2 linked regions of the Homo sapiens genome follow. The protein of the gene in region 2 purifies or fractionates together with the protein of the main gene of each other region. This does not show direct contact. Each region holds a gene or a part of one and is shown on either strand. Other genes may lie near its edges.

Region 1 (7,299 bases), on a different chromosome or scaffold from region 2:
CCTGGCTAATTTTCTGTATTTCTTGTACAGACAGGGTTTTGTCATGTTGCCCAGGCTAGTCTTGAACTCCTGAGCTCAAGCAATCCACCTGCCTTGGCATCACAAAGTGCTGGGATTACAGGCATGAGCCATCATGCCCAGCCCCAAATGCATTTCTTAAGGATTTACCAAAATGGAAAAGTGGACAAACTAGAGAAGGCCAGAAAAAAGTAGCAGGTATGATTTGCTGCAACCCTGCCTCTAAAATTTGTCTTCAAAATATAAAACAGTTTCTATTTTAAGTTTGAAATTAAAAGGCATTTCATATTTTATTCAATAGTTTATAATACATGTAAATTTAATATTTATTAATGTTATTAGTCGGGTGGGAGGTATCTGGACAAAAAAAATGGACCACTGTCATCCACAAAGGATATGTTAAGTATAATGTAATACACTAAAACCTCTTCTAAGTTTGAGAAATGCAAACTAAAATAAAATCCAGAAGCCAAACACCATCACTGAGGAAAGATCAACATTACCACCGAGACCAAAGACAAGAACAAATGTATTCTAGAGGGCTATCACTAGGCGGGGGCAAATCTGTTTTTTCTTTTTTTAAAAAAAGAAATATTCTGCTCCATTTGGAAAGTTAATGCCACGCCATAAAATACATGCCAGAAAGCAAGCAGGTGAAGAAACAGCTTCTAGGTACCTTGTAATGAACCCAGTCAACAGCATCTCTTACATCCTGGAACATACTCCGGTAGGACATGAAGAGGTCCCCATCTTTAAATCCTGTTTCACAACTACAGAAAGATAAAAATAACATGACAGGGGATCCAAAACAGGGTAAACAAAATATATATCAAAAATTTCCCAGGGGACCCAAAGGTTCCATATCACATGGGTAAAGGCTGTGGCTAATGAGGAAAATAATTACTCCCTAATGAAAGTCCACTTTGACCACCAGAAATGGCTATAGTGTTCAATGGAATACAGTAATTGTGAACAAATACAAAGTGATAGAAGAATATATTGAATGGAAGCTAAAAGGCCAAAGTTCCAAAAATGTCAGGTTTTTTTATTTATCACTTTTTAGAAACAGGTTGAAGAAACATTTAAAACTTAAAATTGGTCATTTAGGTTCTTTCCACCCTGACTTTCCTGACACTGTCCCTAAGTACAAAGGTACTGTCCATTTTTTTATTTAGTTCAGTGACTCAGCTTTCCACCAAATTTAGTGTCTTCAAGTGGATAAAGCCCAAAGAGGATAAGAAGTTAGCCAACTCTGGTATATAGATGGCTAAACTTTCAGTATTGGCTATATAATTCTCCCTAAAGGGAGAGGATAACTTGTTTAAGACTTACGCAAAATTTTACTTCTGATAAGATACACAGTATTTATTCCTTAATCAAATCTTGCCTGGCCTGGGAATGAAATTAAATTACCATCCCTGAATGGCTCCTGGGTAGCTGCTGTGAAATGAGTTGGGGGGTTTTAGTGTAATTCTGCTTGGACAGATAATCATCACACAAACCTCCCACTCAGTTGTCACAATTAGCACCTCTGCTGGCCGTCTTCATTCCCAGGAGAAGCCAATCAGAAGTGGTGGCTGCAGCACACTGGCAAGGAGAGGGGCCGTGTGGGAGGTGAGAGCCTGCATGGAGCTGCTGGTGCTGTCCCATCTCTCAGGTTGGCAATGTGGCATCTCTCACTAGCACTAAATTCACTTTAGAAAAGCAGAAAAGACCTACAATGGCCAGTTCTCTAAAACCCTGTGCATTAATTTTAAAAATCAATTGGAAAAAAATAATTATAGTATATACATACCTGGTATATCTGGGACAATTAGTAAAAAAATCTACTAGGCAGGCCAACAGGTAGGTCTCTGAAAAATGAAGAACAGATATTCATAAGCTATAATGAAATAATTCAAACTTATTTCATTACCTCCCTTGAATACAGACTAATGGTCACAGAAGGGAAAGCATCAGTATAAATAAGCATAGAATGAATCTACCTGGTAGGTTGAATAGTGTGTTCAGAATGTAAAATCTTTCAGTATCATCTCGCTGGATAAATTTATTTGGATACTGTTCTCTAGTTTCTGGTCTGAAAGAAAAATTTAAAAATTAACTGATTTTTAAAATAACATTATAATAATTGGGAAATAGCATTATTCAAAAATTAACTCAAATATTTTGATGGCTATGTGCAAGACAGAATTCCGAATATTACGCATGGATAGCTATGAAGATGAACGAGTTCAGGTTCCAGCTCTTTATTTTTTTTAATTTTAATTTTTTTTTTTTTTTAAGACAGTCTTGCTATTTTAAGTCCAGGCTGGACTCAAACTCCTGAAGATTGCTCAAGCAATCTTCCCACCTCAGCCTCCCAAGTAGCTGGGATTACAGGTGTGATGTCCAGCTTAGGTTCCAGCTCTTAAAAGAGTTGTCAGTGTGGTGGGCGAGGTGGGTCACATACACATATAATTATAAGGTAAAAAATCACAACTACTACAAGAAAGGTGCAAACATTTATGAGAAAACCAAAGAAGGGAACACCATTTCAACTTAAGAGGTAGAGAGAAGCAAATGTGAGGACTAAGGAGAGGAAAATCTAGGAAGGATTCATGCACGTGCTGGTATATGAGCTGGGCCTTAAAGGCTAGGTGGACCAGTTGTGAAACTAGTCCAACTTGGGTAGAGAAAGGGGAGCAGAGAAAAATTAAGCTAGAAAGATGGGTTGAGGCAGATTAAGCTACTGTTTCTACACCATTTAGGGGCAAGAGGGTACTACTGACAGTTTTAAAGCAGAGGATAATCCCATCGGGGCTGAGTTGTAAAACAAAATTAAATTAGTGGCTGTTTTAGGATAAACTGGGGAAAGACAATGTGATGCACTCCAACAATGGCCACAAATTCTTCCTGTCTCTTTGTGATGCAATTTTGTGGCTCCTCCCATTAGAACTCAGTCTATTTCTCTATCCTTGAATATAGGCTTGTATAGCAGCAAATGGGATCCAAGCAGAGACCTAGAAAAACATGTGTGTATTGAGGCTTAATCTCTCTTGCAGCACTTGGAACCATGGACTACTATGTGCATGACAGTGAGATAGTCTGCTGGAGGATAGAAGGCTACATGTAGAAATGAAGCACTCGGCCAACAGCCTGTGAATGCCAGACATGTGCATGAGGCCATTGTAGATCAGATGCCAGGTCACCCACCAGCTAACCACAGACATGTGAAAGAGCATAGAGAGATCAGCTGTGCAACCCAGAATCACCCAGTTGACTCTCAGAATTTTTTCTTTTTTCTTTTTTTTTTTTTGAGACAGAGTCTCACTCTGTCGGCCAGGCTGGAGTGCAGTGGCGTGATCTCAGCTCACTCATATATTCAAGAGAGATTACCAAGGTAAAATAAGACCCGGCAAACTGAGCAGATTTGGCTGGGGGAACATTAAAGAGTCAAAGATGATGATGTCCATGCTAAGGTGTCTCTGAGAGGTGGTTGGTACGATGAACAGAAATATGAAAACTAGATAAGAAGTGATGTGAGAGTAGTTCTATTTTAGTGATACTAAGTTTGAAGTAAACTGATTTTTATTAGGCAATTAGAAACAAAGGTCAAGAACTTAAAAGAGATTCAGCCTTGAGAGATAACTGAGATCATCTACGTACAGATACTAGATGGAATCATGAAAAGTATTAGAGGAGATGAAACCACTTAGTGTGCAGAGAAGGAAGAGAAGAGACAGAACAGAACCATGAAGAAAATTCAAGGTTTAAAAGAAAAAAGCCAGTGAAGCAGAATTTGTTAAAGATGCAAAAACACTTCTAGAAGAAAACATTTCAGAGAAACTCAAAGGGAAAAATACTAAAATATAAAAATGCACAGTTCTGACAGTGAATACATGGAGATTAACAATGTAAATAAAGGAAATCAAATTTAAAGCTCACACTCAGAGTGACCTGGATTAATTCCTGCCTGGGTTTGTTAACTACAAATGGCATAAACTCTAGTTAGACATATAAAAATCACATTAGCTCCCTGTCTTAAGTCACTCTTCTGAGATGAGAGTTCCCAATAATGAATAACTTTGTAGAGTATCTTATCTTCTAGCTTTCCAAGATTTTCTTTAATAAAAGTAAGGTGGAAGGTAACAGTAAAAATATACTTTCTTCAGTTAGATTTAATAAGCTGACACTGTCTCCTTAGATACAATATACTTCCCTATTCCCTCCATCATTAAAGAAAAATTCCTTTACATAAAGATGGTTAACATTTATTAGGCAGTTAGAACCCAAATTGATTTATAAATATAGTTAGCAATTACATTGTAAACTTCAGTGTCAAATCACACTAGTATATATTTAAAATAAAAATCAATTTGGGGGAGGTAATATATCATAAAAGAAATGCTACACTTGGAATGGGAAGAAAACAGTTACAGCACAGATTACTACTAACTTTCTGTGACCCACAGAATAAAAATTTATCAAAAAATAAGGTCCTAACTCATTAGCAAAGCCTGATGGAGTCCTTCTTTTCCAGCCTTGTCTACCACTGTAATAGCTTCGATAACTTTCTTTCCCTCTATCTTCAGTCTCTTCTTTTCATGGGAATTTTAATTTTATTAATTTATTTTTATTTTTTTGAGATAGGGTCTTGCTCTGTTACACAGGCTGTACTACAGTGGCACCAACACAGCTCACTGCAGCCTCAACCTCCTGGGCTCAAGCACTCCTCCTGCCTCAGTCTCCCATATAGCTGGGACCAAAGGCATGTACCACCATGCCCAGCTAATTTTTGATATTTGTAGAGATAGGGTTTCACTTTATTGTCCAGGCTGGTCTCCTAGGCTCAAGAAGTCTTCTTGCCTTGTCCTCCCAAAGTGCTGAGATTATAGGCGTAAGCCACTGTGCCTGGCCAGCTTTTCTGTTTAACTCTAAAGACTGCACAGTGCTAAGTGCTATTTGAATGATTCTGCATTTACTCATAAATGACTTATTTTTGAAACACTATTAAATGCATTAGCAAAGGAGCTATGTGGAAACTTTATTGGCTTATTTAAGGGAAGAGAGGAAGTCTGTGGATCTTGAGTTGGAAATTTGATCGTAGTACTAACTTATCCAACTGCTTCTCTTTTCTTCTCTGCCTACCCCTCCCTTATAATACAAAAATTCCTTTTTAGACATAATAGAACCCTGGTTCATCTTCATTGAGATTCTGAGTTATGATGACAATATCTGTGTATAAAATAGCTTAAGTTACTAGTACAACCTGTAATTACTTCATATTCTAAATCCTGTTTCCTGATATTTTCATGGATCCTGAACAAACCCCCTCATGAAAGAAACAGTGAAAGAAATGTGGATGTAATCACTGGCCTGCTCAGATGTGTCAAGATGGGTGTTTACTTCACACCGTTCTCATGTATACATGGAAATCTCTGAGCCTGTGTAATGTCAGTAATGCCAACTAAAGAGTCTTAGATGCTTCAATTCTAAGGGGCATCCTGTGACCTCAAATCTAAAGGAAGCTCTGGTACAATTACAGTTGGTTTGTGCCTCTTATCACAAAAAAAGACATTGTCTTTTTAAACATTTCAATGTAGCCTGGTGTTTTTCCTATTCTGCCATCAAGAATGAATAGTAAATGGAAAAGTTACATAAGAGACTGACACACATCCTATTCTGGTTTTACGAGCTGTTGTTCTGACCTTAATACAATGTCAATAGTAAATAAGGTGGCATAACAGTAGAGAAAATGTATAACAGTAAAGCTATAGCTACAGAAGTTGTCAAATTGTGGCATTATGATTTGAAAATATCGGGACATTTCACAAAAAAATAGTAGATACTAAATTTCATCTGCTGTTTACTAGGGTAAAAAGTTCAAATTAGTGACAATAGTGGAAATATTTTTATTTTGAAAATAAAGCTTATTCTTATTTGTTTAAAATATTATTAGCACATATTCACTTTAACCTTATGTTTACATTTTTTTAATGACACAATCAAATGTCAGGATTCAAAGTTTAGATTCATTAGAATCTAAAAAACGTATTGGCTATTAAAAATCTCTTAATCATTTAAATTGCTATAGTTTAAAATTTTTTCAAAGCATTTTTATATACATACCTCTTCTGAACAGCTACCTGAGAACTGTATTAGAAAGAAGAAAATAAAAATCTTAGAATTTCAAATAAGTCAAAACTACTAAAGTTCTTCTGGGCAAGTTTTAAGATTAGTTTTGTTGTATGCTGTATAATTGGAAGGCACTTAATTTAAACAAAATGTAATTGCTAACTATATGTCAGTTTGGGTTCCAACTGCCTAATAAATAACTGTTAACTAACCTTATGTAAGGGAATTTGCTCTTTAATGATGAAAAGTAATAGGGAAATATATTACATCTGGGGAGATGATGTCATCTTCACATTGTTTGACTTTAACATTAGAAAGAGGCTAAAGGTTCTCTGTACTCACCCCCTTATAAAGTTAAATCCATGTGCACAGACCAAGAGGTTTCCATAGGCATCGACTTTCAAAAGATTTCCATACAGTGTGTCAAAGACAAGTCCCCTATGTGAAAATGAAGACATTATTGATAATGCAAAGTAATACAGGCAATAATTTTATGTAGTAGTATTTAATCATCATGAACCAACCTCATTTAATTCAAGCTTTGTACCAACTCAAAGTATGTCCTAATATAGCTAAAGTGAGTAAAATCTTAAAAACTAATTCTAAAGCAACTAAAAAATATTGACTCCGTCCAGACAGAAAATCATAATTGTTTTCTGTAAGGAATAAGTGCTTAATCAAACAAGGTATAAAAAACATTCTTCTTACTACACAGCTGGTACCATTCTAAAACATAGTCTTTTTTCTTGGACAACTGAGAAGGCTTATATTTTTCTCCATTAGATGCTGTATGTGGGATATATATGATAGCATCTCAAACATCATTTTCTTAATCTTAAATATTCCCTATCAAATCCAGAAATGGAAACTGCCAAGCTTCTATCATGTTAAGTGTATTAGAGAAACACGTACCTATTTGCCAACAGCCCCAAATAGCACCACCTGTGATTACTGCCCATCAGTTTTAGTAATCTCCTTTTTTACCTGTAAGTGGGTCTTCCTCAGTTGCAATAAACTGAGCTTAATTCAGGAACACCAAGATATGGTGTATATGGAAAGTTCATGGTAATTTTAGAATCAACATCAACCAACCAAAAAAACAACAAAGAATTATTCAATGTTTTGGGGGGTTTTTTTGTTAAGGATAAATCTGGAATGTCTAATTTG
Region 2 (3,933 bases):
AGTCCCTGCTGGGCAGCTAGCTGCCTGGGCAGGAGCTTTTCTATTTTTTTTCCTCTCCTTTTTAATTTTTTTATTTTTTTTTATTTATTTTTTGAGACAGAGTCTGGCTCTGTCACCAGGCTAGAGGGCAGTGGTGCGATCACGGCTCACTGCAGCCTCCAACTCCTAGGCTTAAGCGATCCTCCCACCTCAGCCTCCCAAATAGCTGGGACAGGACCACAGGCATGCACCATCATGCCCAGCTAAGTTTTTGATTTTTTGTAGAGATGAGATCTCACTATGTTGCCCAGGCTGGTCTCAAGCTCCTGGACTCAAGTAGTCCTCCCACCTCAGCCTCCCAAAGTGCTGGATCATAGGCATGAGTGACTGTGTCCAGCCAGGATCTTTTCAAGACCCTTCACAGACAGCTCCAATGAGACATTCACTCAGCCCATGGGAAAAGTCCCCAAAGCCTGGAACTGCAGTGTGCTCAGACACTGCCTTATTTCCCTACCCTGCCATGGTGGGCACCTCCAACAAGCCTCTCACCACCAGAATTCTCGAGGCAAGGAGTGGGCACCTGTGTCTCCCTTCTTCACAGCAAACTCCTTAACTCGAGTGTGCAGGTGTCCCAGGTACTCTTCTGCTCTCTGCTCCCTGAGCAATACATGGAGGGCTGTAGGCCCAGCCAGGAGGTGCCTTCTCCCTCCTGCAGGAGGCCCGGACTTCTCAGGGCTCTCATGGAACTCACAGGGATGGGGTTAGAGAGGCACCCACTTTTTCCCTCTCCAGGATGATAGGGTATCATGATGCTTCCTGCCCCCGCACCTTCCCCTCAGAGGCCTTTTCACCAAAGGTGCACCAGATTTCCAGTCGCCTCGTGTGTAAGCTGCAGGTAGGATGTCCGACCCCCTTTTAGCCAGTCCAGGGGGATATAATGAGCCTTTACCTGGGAAATGTGAGGACACCTGTCACTCACTGTCTTTACATTTGGGGGCCTCAGCTGAAACTGCAAGGCTTCAGAAAACCCCTGAGATTCTCTAAGTCTCCTATTCTAAGATTATTCCAAGTCTTGGAGCATTTCTACCCTCAGCCTGGTGGTGGTGGCCTAGCATCCTTCAGGGAAACTTTCTGGAGGGGATTTTTGGATTTCTAGGTCAACTGGAGTCAAGAGGGAAATAGGACCAGTGACCCAGAGCTTACAAACTAGAGTGTGTACCTAAAGACATAATTAGGAAGGTAAGGCTGTTTTTACAGAAGCACATGAACCCTATCGATCAAATAGCTCATGGCTAGTTTTTGATCCACAGACGACTTCTGGATTGCTCTGGCATTGGTCCCCTCTACTGGGGACAGGCTGATACCCTGATGGACAAAAGAAGTCTTGGGGTTGGGCAGAGGGCCTGGGAAAGGAAGGGCCAGTCTGGTCCGAGTCCTCCCTTTCTAACTGCAGAAGGCGCAGCCCCCAGCCCCACCCATGTGGCTGAGCTGGCAACGATGGAGGTGGAGTCTGCAAGGCTGGACCAGGAACCCTGGGAGCCAGGAGGGCAGGAGGAGGAAGAGGATGGGGAAGGAGGGCCCACCCCTGCCTACCTAAGCCAGGCCACAGAGCTCATCACCCAGGCCCTGCGGGATGAGAAGGCAGGCGCTTACGCTGCTGCACTCCAGGGCTATCGAGACGGCGTGCACGTCTTGCTTCAGGGAGTCCCCAGTGAGTAGGGACTGAGGGTGGAGGGTCAGGCCTGGGTCCCAGGTGGGGCAGTGATGAAGGGAGCAAAAAAACAAGCAAATCACGGATCAGGAGCCCTTTTACTCCTCACTGACCAGCTGTGTAACCTGGGCAGATTTTTGTTTCTGTTTTTTTGTTGTTGTTGTTTTTAACCTCTTGTGGCCTCAGTTTTCTTCTTCCTCTTTTTTTTTTTTTTTTTTTGAGACAGAGTCTTGCTCTTGTTGCAGGCTGGAGTGCACAATCTCGGCTCACTGCAACCTCCGCCCCCCAGGTTCAAGTGATTCTACTGCCTCAGCCTCCCGACTAGCTGGGATTACAGGCGCCCACCACCATGCCTGGCTAATTTTTGAATTTTTATTTTTTATTTATTTTTATTTATTTATTTTTATTTTTTGAGACAGAGTCTCGCTCTGTCGCCCAGGCTGGAGTGCAGTGGCACAATCTTGGCTCACTGCAACCTCCACCTCCCAGGTTCAAGCCATTCTCCTGCCTCAGCCTCCTGAGTAGCTGGGATTACAGGCACGTGCCACCACGCCCAGCGAATTTTTGTAGTTTTAGTAGAGATGGGCTTTCACCATGTTGGTCAGGCTGGTCTCGAACCCCTGACCTCGTGATCCACCCACCTCGGCCTCCCAAAGTGCTGGGATTACAGGCGTGAGCCACCGCGCCCAGCATGGCCTCAGTTTTCTTATTTGTAGACTGAGGAGAATGGATGCTGGGCCCCAGAGAGGAGGGAAAAGCACATGGTGATGCTCTGCGAATTGTAAAGGACCCGACCAGGGGTTCTGACCAGGCCAGTGGTGCCCAGGTGCCTCAGCTGAGCATTCTCTCTCCACAGGTGACCCGTTGCCTGCCCGCCAGGAAGGTGTGAAGAAGAAGGCAGCTGAGTACCTGAAGCGGGCAGAGGAGATCCTGCGCCTGCACCTGTCTCAACTCCCACCCTAACAGGGAGTGGGCCATTCCCTGGGACTCTCGCTCCTGCACTGCCAGCCCCTTCTCCTCTCCCCAGGGCCTGGCCCTACCTCCTGGTCTTGTAATTACAGGAGCCATTTCTGTAGGTAACTGGACCAAGAATGAGAAAAATAATGAATTCTTAGCTCCCTGATTACACCTGCCACCTTGGAATCAAGGACTCACACTTCTGACCCTGCCTGTCTTTTTGGGGTTTTTTTGAGTTGGAGTCTCGCTGTGTCGCCCAGACTGGAGTGCAGTGGTGGGATCGCGGCTCACTGCAACCTCCACCTCCCAGGTTCAAGCAGTTCTCCTGTCTCAGCCTCCCCAGTAGCTGAGATTGCAGGCACATGCCACCACGCCCAGCTAATATTTTGTATTTTCAGTAGGGACGGGGTTACACCATGTTGGCCAGGCTGGTCTCGAACTCCTGACCTCAAGTGATCCACCCGCCTCAGTCTCCCAAAGTGCTGAGATTACAGGCATGAGTCACTACGCCCGGCCCATGTCTGTCTGTCTTGATGTGTGAGCAGCAGCTGTGGTCATTAAACCATTAGTTTACCCCTCTAGAACTGGGGTCTGCAAACTCCCACCTGCAGCCAAATCTGGCCCACCTCCTTTTTAATGTAAGGGCTGTGAGAGTGGTTTTTACTTTTTTTAATGATTAAAAAAATCAAAATAATATTCTGTGACAATGACAGGTGAAATTTATATGTGACAAGTGAAAATTATATGAAATTTAAGAGTCCATAAATAAAATTTGTTGGAACACAACCAGGCTAATTCATTTAGTATTGTGATAGCTGCTTTCGCGCTACACTGGCAGTTGAAACAGTTGCAGAGTTGAGTCTTTGCCGCCTGCAAATCCCAAAACATTTACAACCTGGCCCTTTGCAGAAAACATTTGCTGGCCCCTGAGCTAGAAAATAGGGAGCATAGTCTCAGGGAAATAGAGGACAAGCCGATGGAGCCGGTTTATTGGGTGGAAGGGACGAAGGAGAGGAACCCAAAGCCCGGGTACTTGTCTCAGAGGCCCCAAAGCCAAATCCTGATTGCTCAGCGGGCTGGAAGGCGTGGCCTCAGCCCCGCCCCGCCCCGCCTCACCACAAAGCGGTTGGTTGCGGCAGGGACTACACCGGTGTATCATGGGAGCGGCCCGGGCTACACGTTAAAAACACTAAGGGGAGCGCGCGAAGCTGAACTTGGCGCTCGATGGGGGCCGTTAGCCGCCCTAGAGCGCGCGGAGCCGCAGAGGCGTAGCTGGACTACAACGC

The links.
Region 1: the proteins of SNX15 (region 2) and NT5C2 purify together in Homo sapiens (affinity purification with mass spectrometry; 2 studies listed by BioGRID and IntAct, with this or other methods). This does not show direct contact.

What each region holds. Positions count from the first base shown.
Region 1 is NC_000010.11:103,099,232-103,106,530, forward strand, and holds part of NT5C2 (cytosolic purine 5'-nucleotidase), read right to left. Parts: intron 6,571-7,299; coding exon 6,475-6,570; intron 6,151-6,474; coding exon of another isoform or gene 6,127-6,150; intron 2,096-6,126; coding exon 2,004-2,095; intron 1,872-2,003; coding exon 1,814-1,871; intron 1,734-1,813; exon of another isoform or gene 1,521-1,733; intron 1,451-1,520; exon of another isoform or gene 1,432-1,450; intron 789-1,431; coding exon 695-788; intron 1-694. UniProt on the Homo sapiens protein: Broad specificity cytosolic 5'-nucleotidase that catalyzes the dephosphorylation of 6-hydroxypurine nucleoside 5'-monophosphates.
Region 2 is NC_000011.10:65,037,140-65,041,072, forward strand, and holds the end of SNX15 (sorting nexin-15), read left to right. Parts: intron 1-1,432; coding exon 1,433-1,690; intron 1,691-2,546; coding exon 2,547-2,653; 3' UTR 2,654-3,433; downstream 3,434-3,933. UniProt on the Homo sapiens protein: May be involved in several stages of intracellular trafficking. Overexpression of SNX15 disrupts the normal trafficking of proteins from the plasma membrane to recycling endosomes or the TGN.